Homo sapiens: one gene and its partners. The protein of the gene in region 1 purifies or fractionates together with the protein of each later gene. This does not show direct contact. Each region holds a gene or a part of one and is shown on either strand. Other genes may lie near its edges.

Region 1 (7,856 bases):
AGCTCCTGCCAAGGGCCCTGCACTTGGGCTGTGGGGACCCCCTGTGGGGATGGGGCCATCACAGGAGGCTGAGCACAGGGCGGGGTCTTGGCTGGAGGGGACCTTAGGCCACAGGTGCTAGTCTTCTGCAGCCACCCCCCAGGACCCCTGCCCGCTACCTCCTCTGCCCCACAGCTGACAGGCTTTGCCCTCCCCTGCCCCTCTGTGGCCACACACTCAGTTCTCTATACACTTTTATTATGGAAAACATCAAATACACACAAAAGCAGGGCATCTAGGACAGAGACCCTGTGTCCTGGTCCCCAGCCCCTCACAGTGACACCGCCAGGCTTTAGGCAAGATCAGTGGGGGAGGGGAGTTTCCCAGCAGGACGTGCACTTCCAGACCTGGTTCTGTGAAGAGGGGAACAGAAAGTGCTGAGGGTGACAGGGAAACCTCGAGAAGAGGGAGGTGTACTCACATCCTCTCTCGGGGTCCACAACTGAGCCCCCACACAGAGGACCCCACTGGTCTGCCTGAGCTGCTGGGTGGGCAAGTGAGGCACTGGCCTCGGGGGCACAGCGCTTGAAGGGACACCAGAAAAACAGTCATAAAGATAAACCGTAATGTGTTGTTTTATTTCTTATTTATTTATTTATTTATTTTTGAGATGGAGTCTCCCTCTATCGCCCAGGCTGGAGTGCAGTGGCGTGATCTCGGCTCACCACAACCTCCGCCTCCCGGGTTCAAGCAATTCTCTTGTCTCAGCTTCCCGAGTAGCTGGGACTACAGGCACGCGCCACCACGCCCAGCTAATTTTTGTATTTTTAGTAGAGATGGGGTTTCACCATGTCGGCCAGGCTGGTCTTGAACTCCTGACCTCGTGATCCCCCTGCCTCGGCCTCTCAAAGTGCTGGGATTACAGATGTGAGCCACTGCACCCAGCCAATGTGTTGTTTTAGTAAACCAAAACTATGCAAAGGACGCATGAGGATCCAAGCGACTCATTTAGGATGGCAGCTTCACTGCAAAAGGAGTCTCGATTCAGACCTCAAGACATGCTTCGTGGGTCTCACTCAGGAAGGAAGTGGAGGCAAGTCAGAATGTGGTGAGAAGAGAGGGTTTATTGAAAGTTGCTCCATTACAGAGCAGGGTGTCGTCAGAAAGCAAGAGGGGGAACACCCCAGCTTTAACTTTTTCTCATACAGGGGTCTCGTCTGTGTAAAGACTAAGCTAAACTGTGCCTAACATGTATTATTCTATTGATTTAAAGAAAACTGTCTGTCACGGGGTCTTGCTCTGTTGCAACCAGGCTGGAGTGCAGTAGCACGATCTCAGCTCATTGCAATCTCTGCCTCCCAGGCTCAGGTGCTCCTCCCGCCTTAGCCTCCTGAGTAGCTGGGATTACAGGCATGCACCCCCATGCGTGGCTGATTTTTTTTTTTTTTACTTTTTGTAAAGATGGGGTCTTGCTATGTTGCCCAGGCTGGTCTCAAACTTCTGGGCTCAAGCCAACCTCCCACCTTGGCCTCCCAAAGTGCTGGGATTAGAGGCCTGAGCCACCGCGTCCGGCCAAGGGTAGTTGTCTGGAAAGCATATATTGTTCTGGATACCAGGGCACTTGGACACTTTGCTGTCATAGAAGTGTGTCCACGCAGGCGTCACTGGCTGCTGCTTTAGCTGTAAACATCGTATGACCATGGGCTGTGGCTGGCAGGTATGTGCCTCATTGGTCTCAAGGTGGAGCTGAACGTAAACGGCTTTTCTCTGGCTCTCCCAGGCTCCTGCTTCCCTGACATCGCCTCACAGACTTCCCTTCAAAGCAGGGCTGTCCAATCTTTTGGCTTCCCCGGGCCGCATTGGAATAAGAAGAATTGCCTTGGGCCAAACATGAAATACACTAACACTCACGATAGCTGATGAGCAAAAAAAGGTCTCTGCGTAAATCTCATAATGTTTTAAGAAAGTTTACAAATTTGTGTTGGGCCACATTCAAAGCCCGCAGCCCGAGTGTTGGACAAGCTTGCTGCAGAGGCTCCCCTAGATAGGGCTGCAGGGGTGGCGTCCGGCAGCTCTAGCTGGAGAAGCAGGAGGAGGGGCAGGAAGGAATCCTGTTCGGAGCTCCTCGCGTCACACATACAGCCCAGCGGGGTGAAGTGGGAGGGGCTGGCGCTGCTGCAGGGGGCTAACCTTGGGGGTGAGGGGGCAGCCTCGGAGAGGAAGCTGCCCAGGAGCAGAGGCTGGGGGCGGAGGGCCCCGGGCAGTGCCCCCGTGCCCACAGCAGGACCCTGGCTGCCAGTTCTCCGCAGAGGGCCAGGTGGTCTGAAGCTGCCCAGCAGGGAGAGAACAGGCCTGGCCTGGACTGGAAACCTGCCATCTGGCCTCTCGAACCTGGGGACTCCGGGTGTCCTCGAAGAAGGGCCTGAGCAGCAGCAGAGGACCCCAGGCGACCGTGCCTGAGCCGGGCGCCGACGACGACTGAGCACCTGATATGTCCCCGGCACTCGCAGCCCCGCGGCCGGAGTCGCTGTGGGTGAGCGGTCGTCGAGCTTCACAGAGGCCGGGCTCTGTGCCAGGGCCCCGACAGGGCAGGAAGCAGATAGAGTCCCACAAGCACAAGCCCAGTGCGCAGAAAGGGTTACTTAAAAAATAAGTTCTGTGATAAAATCAAACAGGGTGAAGGGCTGGAAACAGGTCATGAGGGCGCAAACAGGTCGTGAGGGCGCAAACAGGTCGTGAGGGCGCAAACAGGTCGTGAGGGCGCAAACAGGTCGTGAGGGCGCAAACAGGTCGTGAGGGCGCAAACAGATCGTGAGGGCGCAAACAGGTCGTGAGGGCGCAAACAGGTCGTGAGGGTGCAAACAGGTCGTGAGGGCGCAAACAGGTCGTGAGGGTGCAAACAGGTCGTGAGGGTGCAGCTTTGGGGAGAGAGGGGCCCTGGGGGTGAGCGGGGAGCTAGGAGAGAAACAGCGCTCTGGAGGGGCCCGGGCAAGGCCTGCCTGAGTGGGAGGGGGCAGAGCACGAGGGCCCAGGCTCCAGGCTGGGTGGGACTGCCCTGAAGTGCCTGCGGAGACAGCCAAGGGGCAGATGGAGAGAGGTAGGGGGTGGGCTGGGGACAGCGTTTCCTGTACACAGGTGGAACCTGGTGGCAAGGGGCCCTTCCCAGAGACAGTCAGAGTCTCTAAATGTCCAGTTTCTTCCCCAAGTCCACACAGCCCAGAAGAATCCGCTGGGACCATGTGGCCCTGCCCAGTGGGGCTTCCCTTCCAGTGTGTGAGGAGCACAGGTGCCAGGCCACGTCAGGGAGGCCAGGCCTGGTGGGGACGGGGTGCCCCAGGCCACTGCTGGGGAGGAGTGATGCCCAGCAGAGGGGGCACGGTGGAGTTCATGGCTGGCCTGGTGGTGGGGGGGGTGGGGGAGCTCTGCAGGGCCCTGGCTCTGGTGGGCTGGGTAGGCCTGCTTGGGGCACCATCTGATCTGCCAGAGGTGGAAGGAGCACTCCTGGGAGATGCCGTGCCCTGCACCTCCAGTCCCTGCTTGACGGCGGCCGGGCTTGGACTGATCAGGTGCCGTGCCTTCTGCTGACCCCAGAGGCCAGACCCTGTGGCCAGAGTGAGGGATGGATGAAATCCCAAATCTGAGCCTCCTGCCCGAGGATGAGGCCCCTCTCCAATGAACATCATGGCCCATGGAGACTGGGCAGGGAACCCAAGGGCGCACACTGGGGACTGGGCCTGGAGGGACAGCCGGGGAAGCAGGAGGAAGGGCAGGAAGGACAGCAGGAGGAAGCAGGAAGAAAGGGACAGGAACCAGGCCCGGGATGACAGCAGAGAAGGACCAATGCCCAGCCAGGGCTTCCTCACGTGCCTCTGGGTAGAGAGCCCTGGTCTGGCTCAGGAGGCCCAGGCACTGGTCTCAGACCTGCCACCACCTGTGTGACGCTGGGCCAAGCGCTTCCCTTCCCTGGGCGTCCGTTTCCACCGCTGTAAAGTGGGGAGGGGTGAAACTGAAGCTCTCCCCAGCCTATCCCAGCCGTTGAGGAGGGAGAGGCTGTGGTCAGGGGCTGTGGGGCCCACGTTGAGGAGACGAGGCTCCTGCCCTCAGGGTGGACAGGGCCCAGGAAGGGGGTGCTCTGCACCATGGGGGCGCAGCCTGGGCCTACGGGCTCCCCCACCATGAGCTCAGAAGGAAGATGTCCGCTGAGGAGTTGGGGGCCAGGGAGAATATTCTAGACCAGATAGGGGTGGTCTGGGTAGGCTTCTGAGGGGGTGGGCTTGGAGGAGGGGCCGGTGGCCAAGTCGGGGGGAAGCAGGGGAGGAGCCAGCCTGCCTGCGTGTGCCTCTCACCTGTGTGCATTGGCGTGTGCATGTGTGTGTGCATGTGTGCCAGCGTGTGTGTGTGTATTGGAAGGCGCCCACGGAGCGTGTCTGCATGAACCAGGATGAGTGTGCGTGCTGCACCCTGTCTTGGGGCTGGGCATGAGGCGCTGGGGAGGGCGAGCTGACCGCAGACCCTGGGAGGGCTGGGCCCTGGGAAGGTTTCCGAGATGACAGGGCAGAAGTGGGCTGGGGAGGAGGAAGGCTCCGTGGGCGGGGCTGGAGCGTCTCTGGTTTTGCTGTCTGTCTCTCACGCTGTTTCCAGAACAAATGTGTGCCCTCAGCAAGGATGCTGGCTCTTCAGAGGTGTCAGCACAGGCAGCCGGCACCCCACTTCCCTCCCAGAAATCCCCCACGCCCTCTAGCTGGGGCTGGTGCAGGAGCAGTGGGGAACTCCTGTTACCCCTGACCTGCTGCCGTCAGTCAGCCGCCCGCCCCCCCACCTTAAGGAGGGGCAGAGTCAGGGACCAGCCCTGAGGGGTGGCTCACCCCAGCTTCACTTCCCCCAGCCCTTCTCAGACAGCCACTGTGCAGGCTTTGGCAGCGGGGGTCACACACTCCACCCGGGAGGCCAAAGCTGCCTGCAGGTCAGTGCCGCCCACTGCCCTAGGGGCCTCCCAGCGGGGCAGGGGCATGGTGGGGGTCTCAGAGTGGGGTGAGGCTGTGATGGGGTCTCAGAGCAGGGTGAGGCTATGATGGGGTCTCAGAGTGGGGTGAGGCTGTGACGGGGGTTCTCAGAGCGAGGTGAGGCTGTGACAGGGTCTCAGAGCGGGGTGAGGCTGTGATGGGGGTCTCAGAGCAGGGTGAGGCTGTGATGGGGTCTCAGAGTGGGGTGAGGCTGTGATGGGTGTCTCAGAGTGGGGTGAGGCTGTGATGGGTGTCTCAGAGTGGGGTGAGGCTGTGATGGGGGTCTCAGAGTGGGGTGAGGCTCTGATGGGGTCTCAGAGTGGGGTGAGGCTGTGATGGGTTCTCAGAGCAGGGTGAGGCTGTGATGGGTTCTCAGAGCAGGGTGAGGCTGTGATGGGGTCTCAGAGTGGGGTGAGGCTGTGATGGGGTCTCAGAGTGGGGTGAGGCTGTGATGGGGGTCTCAGAGTGGGGTGAGGCTGTGACGGGGTCTCAGAGCGGGGTGAGGCTGTGATGGGGGTCTCAGAGCGGGGTGAGGCTGTGATGGGGGTCTCAGAGCGGGGTGAGGCTGTGATGGGGTCTCAGAGCGGGGTGAGGCTGTGACGGGGTCTCAGAGTGGGGTGAGGCTGTGATGGGGGTCTCAGAGTGGGGTGAGGCTGTGATGGGGGTCTCAGAGCGGGGTGAGGCTGTGATGGGGTCTCAGAGCGGGGTGAGGCTGTGACGGGGTCTCAGAGTGGGGTGAGGCTGTGACGGGGTCTCAGAGTGGGGTGAGGCTCTGATGGGGTCTCAGAGTGGGGTGAGGCTGTGATGGGGTCTCAGAGTGGGGTGAGGCTGTGATGGGGAGTCTCAGTGAGGTGAGGCTGTGTTGGGGTCTCAGGTGGGCTGAGGCTGTTGGGGTCTCAGGGGTGGCTGAGGCTGATGAAGACTTGGAGCCTGTGTCTGGGTAGCAGCTTGTTGGAGTGTGGGATGTGACATTTAAAAACAAGAATGAAGAATACCCCGTGCTGTGGCCCCGAGGTGAGCAGCTACTTTGGTGAACTCGTGTCACTCACAGCCCCATCCTGGGTCCTGGGGTGTGGTGTGCTGTGTGGGGCCCAGGCCCAGTGGGGTCACAGGTACGGGGGACTCTGGTGCCTGGGCCACAGGGATCTGCACCTCACTGCGTGCCCCCACGTCTTCAGCAGTGGTTGGGGCCTGTGGTCTCAATCCCAGGCCAGCCAGGCACTCTGGGGTCTGGGCGGGTCCCGGGTCCAGACAGGGGGAAGGGCTGGGGAGGGGCTCTGGTGTGGCTGGATCGCCCGTCTATGGCCAGGTTTCTCTCCTGGATCACTCAGTGCAGAATCAAAGGGCACTTTTCTGCTTTTGTGTGCAGAAGCCGAGGGTGACCTTGTCATCAGAAGGGGAAGCGGGGCCTCAGAGGCGTGCTGCTGGCTCCAATCCCCAAAGCCTCCTGGGCAGGAAGTGGAAGGGCCCCATCCCCACGGTCCCCGGCAGCGGGAGCTCCCTGAGGCTGATGGTGCTGGTGTCTGTCGAGGAAGACAGGCCTGAGGAGCTGAGGCGGGAGGCCAGCTACGGTCCACGGCCTGGACACAGATTCCTGTGCGGGACTGGGGCAGTAGGTGGGCATCTGTGCTGGCCATGTTAGCTCCCAGGGGCCCCATGCCATCTGGGCTAAAGCCTGGGCCTTGATTTCCTGAACTTTTCTGGGAGGCACTCCACGGGCGAGACAAGGACCCATGAACAGGGCACTTCTTCGAAGCCTACGTGCACCTCGAAACTCTTGCAACATTTGCATTTTTCTCCCTAATAGTTCAGTGTTTGTTTTATTATAAACAGGAAAATTTAAATGTTGTAGTTAGAGTTTTTTTCTTCTTCTTAGAGATGGGGTTTCACTCTGTCTCCTAAGGCTGGAGTGCAGTGGTGGGATCATAGCTCACTTCAGCCTCAACCTCCTGGGCTCAAGCCGTCTTCCTGCCTCAGCCTCCCGAGTAGCACGCATCACCAGCCCAGCTAATTTTCTGTCTTTTTTTTTTTTTTTTTTTTTTTTTTTGTAGAGACGGGGTCTCCCTGTGATGCCCAGGTTGTTCTTAAACTTCTGGCCTCAAGTCATCCTCCTGTCTCAGCCTCCCAAAGTGTTGGGATTACAGGCATGAGCCACCGTGCCTGCCTGCAGTTAAACATTCCCCCACAAAATACTGGGCCACACCGAGGCTAGTATGAAAGTTGCAGCCCTGGGTATGTGTGACCTGAGAGCCCCTTGGCAGCCATGGGGAGCGATGGGGGAAGCTGGGGCAATGGGAAGGGGTCTAGGCACACGAGCCCTCGGGTCCTCACCTCCCACGAGGCAGGGTCCCAGGCTGCCTCTACTCAAGGTGGGGCAGCAAAAGAATCGCCCTCTAGCTGTGCAGACCCCCTCCCCCTCCAGGTCTGCACACCGCCCAAGGCTGGCCCTGGACTTCTGGTGGATTCAAGTACTCAGGTGGGGAGAGTAGGAGGCCAGTCGCACGGAGCCCTCCCCAACGCACAGTGCCTGCCCAGCTCAGGTGCCTCTGAGGTGTAGATTCTGAGCAGGTTCTGGGATCTCCTGGCCCCCAGCGGGGGCTGCCACAGGAGTATAGGCCCAACAGGAAGGGAAGATCCCAGCGATTGGTTCCAGTGGGTTCTGGGGATGTCCTCGGAGCCTGGCCTGGCTCAGGGTCCCTCCAAAAGTCCCTGGAACGAGGGTGAAGTGTTGCTCATGAATCAGAGAGAAAGCAAGCAGGACCCTCAAGAAGGGAGGAGAGAGACCACTGGGCGTGCAGCACTTTGCACTCGGGGGAAGGGCTCCTGAAACTTGGAAGTCAGCAAATATCTGCTGTACTTCACCAGAGGTGGGAT
Region 2 (6,705 bases), on another chromosome or scaffold:
TTATGCTGACCAAGAGGCAGCAGATGAATTCTCAGACACCGTTAAGAAAATCATTGAAGAGAAAGGATATCTGCCTGAACAGGTGTTTAATGCAGATTAAGGTACCCTACTCTGGAAAAAAAAAGCCACAAAGGACATTAATAGTAAGGAAGACCAACCTGGGCAACATGGGAAACTCTGTCTCTACAAAAAGTACAAAAATTAGCTGGGTGTGGTGGCACACACCTGTTGTTCCTGCTACTCAGGAGTCTGAGGTGGGAGGATTGCTTGAGCCTGGAAGATTGAGGCTGCAGTTAGCCATGAGTGCACCACTGAACTGTAGCCTGGGCAACAGAATAAGACCCTATTTCAGTTTTTAAAAAGGAAAAAAAAAAATAGGAAGAGAAGCAAGTACCAACATTGAAGGCAAGAAGAGACAGGCTAACTCTACTCTTTTGTGCAAAAAAACCCAGCACTTTGGGAGGCAGAGGTGGGACGATTACCAGAGCCCAGGAGTTTGAGTCAAGTTTGTCATCAGAACTGCCCTTGTCTATAAAGCTGTTAACCTCCAGCCTCGAAGAGCAAAGATAAACACCAGCTGCCAGTGTTTAGGTTGTGCAATAAGAAGGCTTAGACAACAAGAACCCTTTTTCTGGATTGGTTCCATCAATGCTTTGTCCCTGAAGTCAGGAAGTACCTTGCCAGTAAGAGACTACCTTTTAAAGTTCTTTTGATGTTGGACAATACTCTGGCCACCCAGAGCCCCATGAGTTCAGCACCAAAGGCAAATTAAAAAGTCTATTTGCGGCTGGGCCCAGTGGCTCATGCCTGTAATCCCAGCACTTGGGAGGCCGAGGTCGGGGGATCACCTGAAGTTGGGAGTTCCAGACCAGCCTGACCAACACGGAGAAACCCAGTCTCTACTAAAAATACAAAATTCGCCGGGCGTGGTGGCACATGCCTGTAATCCCAGCTAATCAGGAGGCTGAGGCAGGAGAATTGCTTGAACCTGGGAGGTGGAGGTTGCAGTGAGCTGAGATCGTGCCATTGCATTCCAGCCTAGGCAACAAGAGTGAAATTCTGTCTCAAAAAAAAAAAAAAAAAAAAAAGGTGGTCTATTTGCCTCCAAACACAATATTTAAATCAGCTACTACATCAGGGGGTGATAAGGACCTTTAAGGTTCATTACACACAGTACTCTCTAGAAAACAGATTGTCAAAGCTATGGAAGAGAACTGCAATAAAGAGAACATCATGAAAGTTTAGGAGGATTATATCGTTGAAGATGCCATTGTCGTTATAGAAATAGCTGTGAAGACCATCAAGCCTGAAACAATAAATTCCTGCTGGATAAAACTGTGTCCAGATGTACACAAGACTTCACAGGGTTTATGACAGATAATCAAAATCATGAAAGAGATTGTGGATATGGCAAAAAAAGGTGAGGGGTAAAGGGTTTTAAGATATGATCTTGGATAAATTCAAGAGCTAATAGACACCAAACCAGAGGAATGAACAGAAGATAACTTGATGGAGATGAGTGCCAGATGATGAGGAAAAACACGTAGAAGAGGCAGTGCCAGAAAACAGATCTGGCAGAAGGTTCTAATTATTTAGAGCTGCTTTTGACTTATTTTACAACATGGACCCTTCTAAGATATGTGCCCTGAAACTAAAGCAAAGAAAAAAGATTGGTATTGTATAGAAACATTTTTAGAGAAATGAAAAAGCAACAAAATCAGACAGAAATTATATTTCCATAAAGTTACACCAAGTGTGCCTGCCTGTTCTACCTCCCCTTCCACCCTCTTCTGCCTCTGCCATCCTGAGACAGCAAGACCAACCTCTCCTCTTCCTCTTCCTCCTCCTCCTCAGCCTACTCAGTGTGAAGACAAGGATGAAGACCTTTATGAGTATCCATTTCCACTTAATGAATACTAAATATATTTTTGCTTCTTTATGATTTTCTTTTTCTTCTTTTTTGCCCCCCTGCTTCCTGGAAAGATTTTCTTAATAACATTTTCTTTTCTCTAGTTTACTTTATTGTAAGAATACAATATATAATATTACATTCAAAATATGTGTTAACTGAATATATTATTAGTAAGGCTTCCAGTCAACAGTAGGCTATTAATAGTTAAGTTTTAGGGAGTCAAAAGGTATATGCTGATTTTTGATGGTGTCAGGGGTCAGTGCCCCTCATCCTGGGGTTGTTCAAGGGTCAGCTGTACTAAGTGCTACTGTGCATTAGGCATTAAATTATGCAAATCAACTCATTTAACTCTCACAACAACTTTTTGAGATTGGTATTATTGTTATCTTAATTTTAGAGATGAAAAAAGTAAGGCACCGTTTTTTCTAAGTTTACTAAAATAACTTGCCCAAGAGCACACAGCTAGCAAGTGGCAGACCCAAGCACTCTGGCTTCAGAGCCTGCTCTTTAAACCTGTATACCATACTGCCTGCTAGAATCAAGTTGAATAGTCTGTAAAGTCTCAAGTAGGTTTAGTTTATGCACAGACAATTCAGTGCATAAGGAGGAGGAAAAGGCAGGGCAGGGGAGGGAAAGCTAAGCACTGGTCTGTGTTTACTTTTTTTTTGTTTGAGACAGAGTTTCGCTCTTATTGCCCAGGCTGGAGTGCAGTGGTGCGATCTAGGCTCACTGCAACCTCCGCATCCCGGGTTCAAGCAATTCTCCTGCCTCAGCCTCCTCAGTAATGGGATTACAGGCACACGCTACCCCACCCGACTAATTTTTTAAAAAGTATTTTTAGTAGAGACAGGGTTTCACCATGTTGGCCAGACTGGTCTCGAGCTCCTGACCTCAGGTGATCTACCCTCTGCCTCCCAAAGTGCTGGGATTACAGGCGCGAGCCACCATGCCGGGCCTGTGTTTACATTTATTTAACCCTCACAACAACCTACAGATTGGTAAACCTGTGAAATAGCAGTTGTTATTTTATAGAAGGGGAAATTGAAGTACAGAAAAGTTACATAATTTGCCAGTAGTTACAACACTAGTAAGTGGAGGAGCCAAGACTTGAATGTTTTTTACTATACTGTACAAGAGAGATACAAAGACCCCAGTATATGTGCATCTACAATATACACACATGCACAGGCACACTCACATTTCTGCACCTACCATCCTATAGTGCTTGCTGTTTATACAAGAGATCCAACAGTTTCATGGCTCTGGGTCTCAAACCTACAATAATAGAGTTGCCAGATTGAGCAAATAAAAATAACGGATGGCCAGGCACAGTGGCTCATGCCTTTAACCCCAGCACTTTGGGAAGCCAAGGCCAGTGGATCACCTGGGGTCAGGAGTTTGAGACCAGCCTGGCCAACATAGTGAAACCCCGTCTCTACTAAAAATACAAAAATTAGCCAGATATGGTGGCGCACACCCATAGTCCCAGCTACTTGGGAGGCTGAGACAGGAGAATCGCTTGAACTCAGGAGGTGGAGGTTGCAGGGAGCTGAGATCATACCACTGTGGTCCAGGCTGGGTGACAGAGCGAGGCTCCATCTCAAAAAATAATAATAATAAAATAAAATAAAGGATGCAGGCCAGGCACCTTGGCTCACACACCTGTATTCCCAGTACTTTGGGAGGCAGAGGTGGCACAATTACTTGAGCCCAGGAGTTTGAGACCAGCCTTAGCAACATACAACCTCATCTCTAAAAAAGAAAAAATAAATAATAATAATAAATTAAAGATGCCCAGTTAAATTTGAAGTTTAGATAAGCACCAAATAATTTTAAATATGTCTATGCAATATTTGGGACACACTTAAGCTTAAAAATGTTTTTGGTGTTTATCTGAAATTCAAATGTAACTGGGCATCCTGTATTTTATCTGGCAACCCTACTAAGGAGAAAAATTCCTATTTGTCTTTCAAGTTCTAAGTCAAATGACTATTTCTACATAAAGTCTTCAGTGATTTCTCTGGGTAGTTTGTTTTTCCCTTCTGTTCTTTTATAACCTCACCTGCATCTATCCATTATAGTATTTATTACTCTGATTGTAGGCGCCTGATCCTTCCCATTCAGACCTTTTATCTTTTGTGGGGAAAGCGTTTTATGTTCATCTCTGAATTCCCAACCTTGGAGATGTTGAATGATTGAAATGGTAATTGAATAAACATTTACTGAGAGCCAGTAGGTTTAAGAGGAGGAATGAAGGAGAACCAGCATTTATTAATTGCCTTCTATATGCTAAATATAGTGCTGATTGCTTACAATATTTAATGCCCCTTAGGCCTTATTAATAAAATGGACGGGCAGTCTTTCGCTGCAGGAAGATCACATTCTCCTGAGGCCTATAACATTTGGCATAAATAACTGATGCCATTATAGTCTCTGTATCTCCTTTCTGAGAAAGCTGAACCTGGGCCTAGCTGGCGTAGAACTCCTGTTTCCATAGAAACAAGAGGGTCTGTAAAAGTCAAGGGAGACAGGAAGAGCAGTTTGCACTTCCGGCTTACGTCGGAGACGCGTACAACCCGGAAGTTGGCGCAGCGCGGTTGCCAATGGTCGCTCCCTGAGAGGATGCCGCTCGTGGTGTTTTGCGGGCTGCCGTACAGCGGCAAGAGCCGGCGTGCTGAAGAGTTGCGCGTGGCGCTGGCTGCCGAGGGCCGCGCGGTGTACGTGGTGGACGACGCAGCTGTCCTGGGCGCAGAGGACCCAGCGGTGTACGGCGATTCTGCCCGTGAGAAGGCATTGCGTGGAGCTCTGCGAGCCTCCGTGGAACGGCGCCTGAGTCGCCACGACGTGGTCATCCTGGACTCGCTTAACTACATCAAAGGTTTCCGTTACGAGCTCTACTGCCTGGCACGGGCGGCGCGCACCCCGCTCTGCCTGGTCTACTGCGTACGGCCCGGCGGCCCGATCGCGGGACCTCAGGTGGCGGGCGCGAACGAGAACCCTGGCCGGAACGTCAGTGTGAGTTGGCGGCCACGCGCTGAGGAGGACGGGAGAGCCCAGGCGGCGGGCAGCAGCGTCCTCAGGGAACTGCATACTGCGGACTCTGTAGTAAATGGAAGTGCCCAGGCCGACGTACCCAAGGAACTGGAGCGAGAAGAATCCGGGGCTGCGGAGTCTCCAGCTCTTGTGACTCCGGATTCAGAGAAATCTGCAAAGCATGGGTCCGGTGCCTTTTACTCTCCCGAACTCCTGGAGGCCCTAACGCTGCGCTTTGAGGCTCCCGATTCTCGGAATCGCTGGGACCGGCCTTTATTCACTTTGGTGGGCCTAGAGGAGCCGTTGCCCCTGGCGGGGATCCGCTCTGCCCTGTTTGAGAACCGGGCCCCACCACCCCATCAGTCTACGCAGTCCCAGCCCCTCGCCTCCGGCAGCTTTCTGCACCAGTTGGACCAGGTCACGAGTCAAGTACTGGCCGGATTGATGGAAGCGCAGAAGAGCGCTGTCCCCGGGGACTTGCTCACGCTTCCTGGTACCACAGAGCACTTGCGGTTTACCCGGCCCTTGACCATGGCAGAACTGAGTCGCCTTCGTCGCCAGTTTATTTCGTACACTAAAATGCATCCCAACAATGAGAACTTGCCGCAACTGGCCAACATGTTTCTTCAGTATTTGAGCCAGAGCCTGCACTGACCAGAGGAGGTAGGGGGGAAGCCATGGCTTCTGATCTCCACTCCACTTTATTTCTCTGGGAAAAATAGGCTGCAGGTCTCCAGAGCATATCGATGCAGTACTGTACTAGAGCTGTTGTGACTGATTCACTCAAACTTTCCTGCATACCCCTGTGCCAGGCCTTGGGTTTACAGCATAAGTTCAGACTAAAGAGAATGGAGAACTATTGTGGTGCAACCTGGCAAATCCCTCAGAGGACAGAGCTAAGGTGGACAGGGATTACCTAGATTGGATCCTACTTGGGCTATCACAGAGCATTGACCATTGGCTTCCCTCATCTGAGGCGTGGGAGAGCAGACTGGATAGATGAGAATTGTTTTAAAACAATTGTGAACAGAAACTGAAGATGGTACAGTTCTACATCTGCACCTGCCCTTTTTTCATACCACAAAAGTATTTTTTGAGTACTGTACTGACTTTTTGCTAGTTTCTATTCTGGGACCGAGTTCACAGATAAATCCATTGGTTTGTATCCTTGAGAAACTTTGTTTTTGTGGAAGTAAGAAAGTTATCTACTAGATTATTTCCTCTAATAAAATCTTTTAAAATAGTCTACTGGAATCTCTTTCACTTAATGTTCCCTGTGTAACTTCATGTAACATTTTAGGTATACTTGTCATTGTTCTGCCTTTAAGTGAAGTAGTATTTTGATAGTTCTGAGAGAGTAGATGTTTTGAGCTACTCTACAGTAATTATATTATGACAATTTCCGTAACTGTTTTGCTTCATTCTGCATTTCAAGGCAAATATCATTGTAAGCTTGTCTTTCATTCTTCATTGATTTCATTGAACAAATGGTAGGTACCTACTTTAACAGTGGCTGTGATTTTCAAAGACCAATTAGATACAGTGTTTTTGCTCTTGAGATATGTGGTGAGAAGCCGGGTGTGGTGGCTCATACTTGTAATCCCAGCACTTTGGGAGTCCAAAATCGAGGTCAGGAGTTCGAGACCAGCCTGGCCAACGTGGCAAAACCTCGTCTCTATTAACAGTACAAAAATTAGTTGGGCGTGATGGTGTGCCTGTAATCCCAGCTACTCTGGAGGCTGAGGCACGAGAATCGCTTG
Region 3 (7,045 bases), about 110 Mb from region 1:
GCAGAGAAAATGAAGGCAATACAGTTCACTTAATAATCTCATAAATTAGAACTTACCCCGTGACTCCTGCATAGCTCCAAATATGTGAGAGAGATGAAATGGCTGTTTGCCACCAATATTTTTATGTGATGCTTCATTTTTTGATTCTCTGAATAACTACTTATAACGCATTAGCCCATTTATGCCAGAGGCTGCAATTTTTTGAATTTTTGCACGAGTGAAAAATCAAACCTTCTAATGACCTTGAGCAGTAGGATGTAATTAACTCCCTCATGCTTACCATTCCAATAATGGAACACTAGGCATAAGTGGTTTAACACAATCATGAAAGCATAGCTATTCAAGTAACTAATTATACAACTGATTTTTTTCCTCATCCCTAAAACATAGTAAAGGACCAGTTATTTTAAAAATACAACACAGTGACAATTTTGGCTTGTTGTTTGTTAAGGCCATTGCTTGGCATAAAGAAAACAAAAAGAGGAGGAGAAACAAGAATAGAAACATGAAATAGAAGCAGCAGCAAAAGAAAATGAAGAGGAACAAGAAGATGAGAAGAATACACAGACTAGAAAAAGCAAAAAGAACAGGTGCAGGAATTAGAAGGCCTATTATGACACCTTTTATCCCCTCCCCAATTCACAAAATTTGAAAAAGTCCAAGACCATCACAACAAAAAAGAAGGAAAAAATGACCGGGAGTGGTGGCTCACGCCTATAATCCTAGCACTTTGGGAGGCCAAGGTGGGCGGATCATGAGGTCAGGTGATCTAGACCATCCTGGCCAACACTGTGAAACCCCATCTCTACTAAAAATACAAAAATAAAATTGGCTGGGCGTGGTGGCAGGCGCCTGTAGTCCCAGCTACTAGGGAGGCTGAGGCAGGAGGATGGGGTGAACCCAGGAAGCAGAGCTTGCAGTGAGCCGAGATCGCACCACTGCACTCCAGCCTGGGCAAAAGAGCGAGACTCTGTCTCAAAAAAAAAAAAAAAAAAAAAAAAAAAAGCCACACACACACACACACACAGTCACCCCCTAAATTTTGTTAAGAATGAGACAATGCTGCCACTCATGCCTGGCTCAGAAGGAGGCCACCCTCCAGAGATTGCAAGAGAAGGGGGAGGACTCCTTTCCCTAAGTGCACCTCCACCACTGCCACCGAGGCCCATGGTACAGCACCAGCAGGTTCCTCCCCACCCCAGGTCGGACTGGGCCCTGCAGTGCTCCTACTCCCCCTTCCCAGTCCCCAGACTTTCTGCCACTACCACCACTAGCACCAATGCCAATACAGTTGCTGTCGCCGTCAATGCAGCAGCCCACCCTACAAGGTTCCTACCACCTTGCCCCCGCGGGCACCCTCCTACCACTCCTGTCGAGCTGCAGTCTCCGTGGCTGCCATCAGTCACACGAGGCGAGCTGCAGAGTCACGCCACATGCAGGCTCCAGCGTACCACAGGTGATTCCTTCTCCTCCTCCTCCAGCCTGGCTTGGAGCAGCTAGACCGGCAAAGCCAGAAAAGCCTAGAATGGGATGCAGGGAGTGGTAACGTTAGAGCCTCACCTTGTCATGCTGGCCACTGGGTGGCAGGGACCAGCTTCAGCTAAGGCACTCACACCCACCCACCGAAGTCCAGCCTCTCTTTCTGGCAAAAGGTGGCCAGGAACTGGGGCGGGTGTGAGTGCCTATGCTGAAACCACCCCCATCCAGGTGCAACTGGCCAGAAATTGCTGGGCCCACCAGGGCTGCACTCCTTGGGGAGCAGGAGTAGGAGAAACTCAGACCCAGCCAGCCCTCCCCACTCAACTGCTGGTTCCCGTTCCTGACACCTCCACCCACAGTGCCCTGTTCCCACAGTCCCCCGCGATGCCCACTAATCCCCACCCGGTAGTCCCAGGTGGTCTCCCCAACACAGAGCATGGGGTGTGGGCGGGAGGTGCAGGCCGGAGAACCGCAGTGGGTGTGGGGGCCCTGCCCTGCTCAAGATTGCACGAGCAGGAACTCTGGAGTCTGGAAAAGAGAAGAGTTACCCGAAGGAGCAAGGAGACCATGGCTGTTGCTGTCCCCACCACCTCTGCAGCCGACCAACACCACTGGCAGTATAGCCCCCATAGCAACCCTAACCTGACCCCTGCCGCCGGCAGTGTAGCCCCCGGACAGCACACCCAACACACCCTGTGCCAGTTGCAGGCAGTGTAACCCCAATACCCCCCCCCAACCACCCCTTCCACAGGCAGTGTAGCACCCGATAGTGCCCACAACCTGACCCAGCCACAGGTGTTGCTGCACAAGACAGTGCCCCAAAATCGCCGCCCCCACCCCACCACAGGTAGCGCAGCTCCTGATAGCGCACCCTGAGTAAGGGCAGTGCAGCACCCGACAACACTCCTAAACCACCCCCCGCTGCCAGCATTGTAGCTCCAAATAACCACCCAAACCACTCCCTGCCCCGGGCAGTGCAGCAGAAAATAGTGCCCCTAACCCCTCCCCCGCCACCGGCAGTACACGTTAGTGCACACAACCTGCCTCCCCCCCACCACCCCCGCCACCACGGGCAGTGTAGCCCCGGACAGCCAGCCAAAACCGCCCCCCTCCACCGCCAGCAATGCAACCTCGGAGAGTGCCCCCAACCAGCCCCCTGACACAGGCAGTGCAGCCTCGGGCAGTGAGCCCCAATAGGACACCCAACCCCTGCCCCCACAGGCGGGCAGTACATCCCCGGATAACTCACCTACACCAGGACATTTCTACCACTCTGGCCGAGCTGCAGTGTCCCACGTCACCACCAAACACAGCAAGGCGAGCCCCAGGGGCTCAGGCTCCAGCCTCCAGCATGCGTCGGTGCTGCTCCCTTCTACTCGTCTTCCTGCCTGGCAGGAGAAGCTCCCGCTACTAGTTGCCCTCCTACCGCTCTGTGGACACCACCAACTGCAGTGAGCCAGTGTCCGAGGCTCCAGCCAGAAACAGGTAGCAGCCATGCCGGTTACCAAACGCCCACACTTAAGAGCCTGAAATGACCTGACGCCACCTCCGCATGCTTTACGTACTGAGGTTACGCACATGTGGTTCCCAGACTACATGTTCTGATTGGATGAGAGAAAAACCTCTAGGCCTACTCTGATTGGACTTTATTTTCATGCTGTGATTGGTTGTCTTAAGACTGGCTCTCATCCAATCAGAACATGATAATAAAGTCCAATCCAAGTAACCCTGGAGGGTTTTTCTCATCCAATCAGAACATGCAGTCAGGAATCCTCCTGTATATAACCGCGGTATACGCCTGCTGCTGAAGGGAAGTCAGGCTCTTCCACGTTCCCGTATTTTCCTGTGGAGCTGCTCAGTGCCCGGCTTAGAGGACCAGGAATGGGTAATCACCAGCCGTACGCTGGAGGCTGGAGCCGCTACACCGTGGCTCGCCTCGCTGCGACTGGTGGTAACCGCGACCGAGACGGCAGTGCGGCGGAAGCGGTAAGAGGAGGAAAAGAGTTTTGGGATAGATGGAGGGGGTAAAGAGGGTGGTTAGTGCCAAAGGGAAGAGAGGATAGTGAGCAGGAGAGCGCGTTGCAAAAAGGCGGTGGGGAAAAGATAGTGGGAAAAAAAGTTTTTGGGTAGATGGAGGGAGAAAAACGGGGTGGGGAGCGGCAGGGAGGGAAGGTTTTGCAGAAAGATGGTGGGTAAAATGTTTATGGGTAGATGGAGGAGGAAAAGAGGGTGGCAAGGGAGGAGGAAAGAGAGGGTGGTGGGGGGGAGAAACAGCGTTGAGCAGTAGAGAGAGAAGGTTTTGTGAAAAGACAGTGGGGAGAAAAGGTTTTGGGTAGATAGAGGGGGAAAAGAGGGTAACAGGTGGGGGAAGGGAAAAGGGTAGCCAGCGGGAGGAAGACAAGGTTTTGCAAAAAGATAGTGGGCAGGAAAGAAAGACGGTGGAGAAAGAAAAGACAGTGGGTAAAAAGTGTTTGGGTAGATGGTGGGGGGAAAGAGGGTAACGAGGAGGAGGAAAGAGGGTGACGAGAGGGAGCAGGGAAAGAGAGTTGGGGAAAAAATGGGAAAATAGTTTGGGGTAGATGGAAGGCAAAAAAGAGAGTGGCAAGCAGGATAGGGCAAAGAAGAGGACGAGTGGGAAGGGGGGAAGACTGTGAAAAGACAGTAGGGAATATTCTGGGGGGTGGATGGAGGGGGAAAAGGGGAGGTGAGCAGGAGTGGGGAGAAGGCTTTGCGAAAAGACTATGGGGAAATGTTTTTGGGTAGAGAAGGGAAAGAGGGTGGCAAGGAGGAGCGGGGGAAAAGACGATGAGGAAAACAGTTTTCGGGTAGATGAAGGGCGAAAAAGTGGTGAGCAGCAGGAGTGAGGAGAAGGGTTTGGGAAAAGACGGGAGAAAATGTTTTTGCTTAGATGAAGGAGCAAAAGAGGGTGATGAGAGTGGGATGGGGGAAAAGAAGGTGGCCAGGGAGAAAGGGAAAAGACGGTGGGAAAAAACAGTGGGGAAAGTGGGTAAGTGGATGGGGAAAAGGGTGGTGAGTGAGAGAGCAGAGAAGGCTTTGCGAAATGACGGTAGGGAAAAATGGTGGGGAAAAAGTTTTGGGGTAGATGGAGGAAGAAAACGGGTGGCGAGGGGGAGGAGGCCAAAGGCGGTCGGGAAAAGAAGGTGGGAAAATAATGGTGGGAGACAAAGATTTGGGGTAGATTTTTTTTTAATCAAATTATTTGTATTTTTGCTTTTGAGTAGTTATTTATATATTTTGTGTATTAGCCCCTTGGCTGATGCATAGTTTGCAAATACTTTCTTCCATTCTCTGGGTTGTTTCTTCGTTCTACTGATTTCTTCCTGTGCTTTGCAGAAGCTTTTAAGTTTTATGTAATTACATCTTTGCTTTTGTTGCTTGTGCTTTTGACAAGTTTAATGTAATTACATCTTTGCTTTTGTTGCTTGTGCTTTTGATGTCTATTTGAAAATTCCTTGTCCTAACCAGTTTCATGAAGCATTTATCCTATGTTTTCTTCTCTAGTAGTTTTATAGTTTCAGGTCCTACATTTAAATCTTTATTTTGAGCAGATTTTTGTATATGGTAAGATAACGGCCTAGATGTATTCCTGCACATGTGGGTGTTGAGTTATCCTAGCAGTTTATTGAAGAGATTGTCCTTCCCGAATGTGTGTTCTTGGTGCCTTTGTTAAAAATGAGTACGCCATAAATGTGTGAATTTATTTCTGATTTCTCTATTCTGTTTCACTTGTCTATGTCTGTCATTCCTTCGTTTCTGTTTCTCCCCCGCCCCTTTTTTTGATAGTATTATGCTGTTTTGGTATTACCATGCTTACTACAGATTTGTAGTATGTTTTGAAGTCAGGTGTGATGCCTCCAGCTTTTCTTTTTATTCCAGATTCTTTTGTCTATCTGAGGTATTTTGCGTTTCCATGTGAATTTTAGGATTTTTTTTTCCTATTTCTATGAAGAATGTCTTTTGTAATTTAACATGGATTGCATTGACTCTCTAGATCACATTGGGTGATATAGACATTTTAACAATATTCTTCTAGTGCATGGACATGGGATATCTTTCCATTTACTTGTGTCTGCTTTAATAGCTTTCATCTGTGTTTTAGAGTTTCCATTGTGGGATCTTTTGTCTTTTTGGTTAAGTTTATCCCTAGATATAATTTTTTTGGTAATGAAATAGCTTTCTTGATTTCCTTCTTAGGTATTTCACTATTGGTGCATGGGTGTGCTGATATTGTATCTTGCAACTTGACTAAATTATTTCCTGTAGGTGATTTTGTGGAATCTTTAGGGTTCTCTCTTTCTCTATGTATATATATATGATCATGTCACCTGCAAACAGAGACAGTTTGACTTCCTTTTTTCCAATTTGGATGCCTTTTATTGCATTCTCTTGTCTAATTGCGCTACCTAGGACTTCCAGTACTATGATGAATAAAAGTGGTGTAAAAGTAGCCACACTCGTTCCAGGCCTTAGAGGAAGAGTTTTAACCTTTCCCCATTGATTATGATGTTAGCTGTGGGTTTATCATATATGGCCTTTATTGCGCTATGTTCCTTCTGTACTCATGTTGTTCAGTTTTTGCCATGAAGGAATGTTGATTTTTATTTTTTTCAGCATCTACTGAAATGATTATATGGTTTTTGTTCCTGATTCGCTGAATGTGATGTCGTACATTTATTTATTTGTGTTTTATTGAATCATCCTCATATTCCTGGGATGAATCCCACTTGATCATGGCAGATCATCTTTTTATTGTGTTGTCAAGTGCAATTTTCAAGTATTTTGCTGAGGATTTTTTTGCATCTGTGTTTATCAGGGATATTTAAAATGCCTGTGGCTTTCTTTTTGTGTTGTTTCCTGGTCTGGTTTTTGTACCAGGATCATGCTGTCCTCATAGAACAAGTTTCGAAGACTTCCTTTCTCTTCACTTTTTGGGGAATATTTTGAGTAAAATTGGTATTAGCTCTTTTAAAAATGTTTGGTAGAATTCAGCAGTAAAACCATGATTCTTGTGTTTTTGTTTGACGGAAGACTTTTTATTACTGCTTTAATTATATTACTCATTATTGATCTGTTCCGGTTTTTTGTTTATCATTCTATCTTGGGAATTTGTTATGTGTCCAGAAATTTATCACTTCTCCTAGATTTTCCAACTTGTTTTTATATAGGTGTTTTTAGTAATCTCTTACAATCCTTCATATTTCTGTGTTATCACTTGCAATGTCTCATTTTTCATCTATGATTTTTTCTTTTTCTTTTCCTTAGTCTAGTTAAAGCTTGTCAGTTTTGATTTTTTTCTAAAAAATCCAGCTCTTTGTTCCATTGACTTTTTGTATTTTTTGTTTCTATTTTTAAAATTTCTTCTCTAATCTTTATGATATTTTTGTACTAATTTTAGCATTTTATTTTTCTCATTTTTCTCACTACTTCAGGTGTACTGTCAGGTTGGCTATTTGAGATCTTTCTACTTCTCTGATGTAGGTGTTTATAGCTATGCCCTTTTCCTCTTACAACTGCTTTTGCTGCATCCCACAGGATTTGTTATGTT

What was found. Proteins that work in one complex are often made in the same cells at the same time.
Region 2: the proteins of GPR35 (region 1) and KTI12 purify together in Homo sapiens (affinity purification with mass spectrometry; 3 studies listed by BioGRID and IntAct, with this or other methods). This does not show direct contact.
Region 3: the proteins of GPR35 (region 1) and POTEE purify together in Homo sapiens (affinity purification with mass spectrometry; 3 studies listed by BioGRID and IntAct, with this or other methods). This does not show direct contact.

The regions. Positions count from the first base shown.
Region 1 is NC_000002.12:240,620,627-240,628,482, forward strand, and holds the start of GPR35 (G-protein coupled receptor 35), read left to right. Parts: upstream 1-4,853; 5' UTR 4,854-4,942; intron 4,943-7,856. UniProt on the Homo sapiens protein: G-protein coupled receptor that binds to several ligands including the tryptophan metabolite kynurenic acid (KYNA), lysophosphatidic acid (LPA) or 5-hydroxyindoleacetic acid (5-HIAA) with high affinity, leading to rapid and transient activation of numerous intracellular signaling pathways.
Region 2 is NC_000001.11:52,031,591-52,038,295, reverse strand, and holds KTI12 (protein KTI12 homolog), read left to right. Parts: upstream 1-4,485; 5' UTR 4,486-4,534; coding exon 4,535-5,599; 3' UTR 5,600-6,193; downstream 6,194-6,705.
Region 3 is NC_000002.12:131,205,503-131,212,547, reverse strand, and holds the start of POTEE (POTE ankyrin domain family member E), read right to left. Parts: upstream 3,013-7,045; 5' UTR 2,729-3,012; intron 1,521-2,728; 5' UTR 1,365-1,520; intron 1-1,364.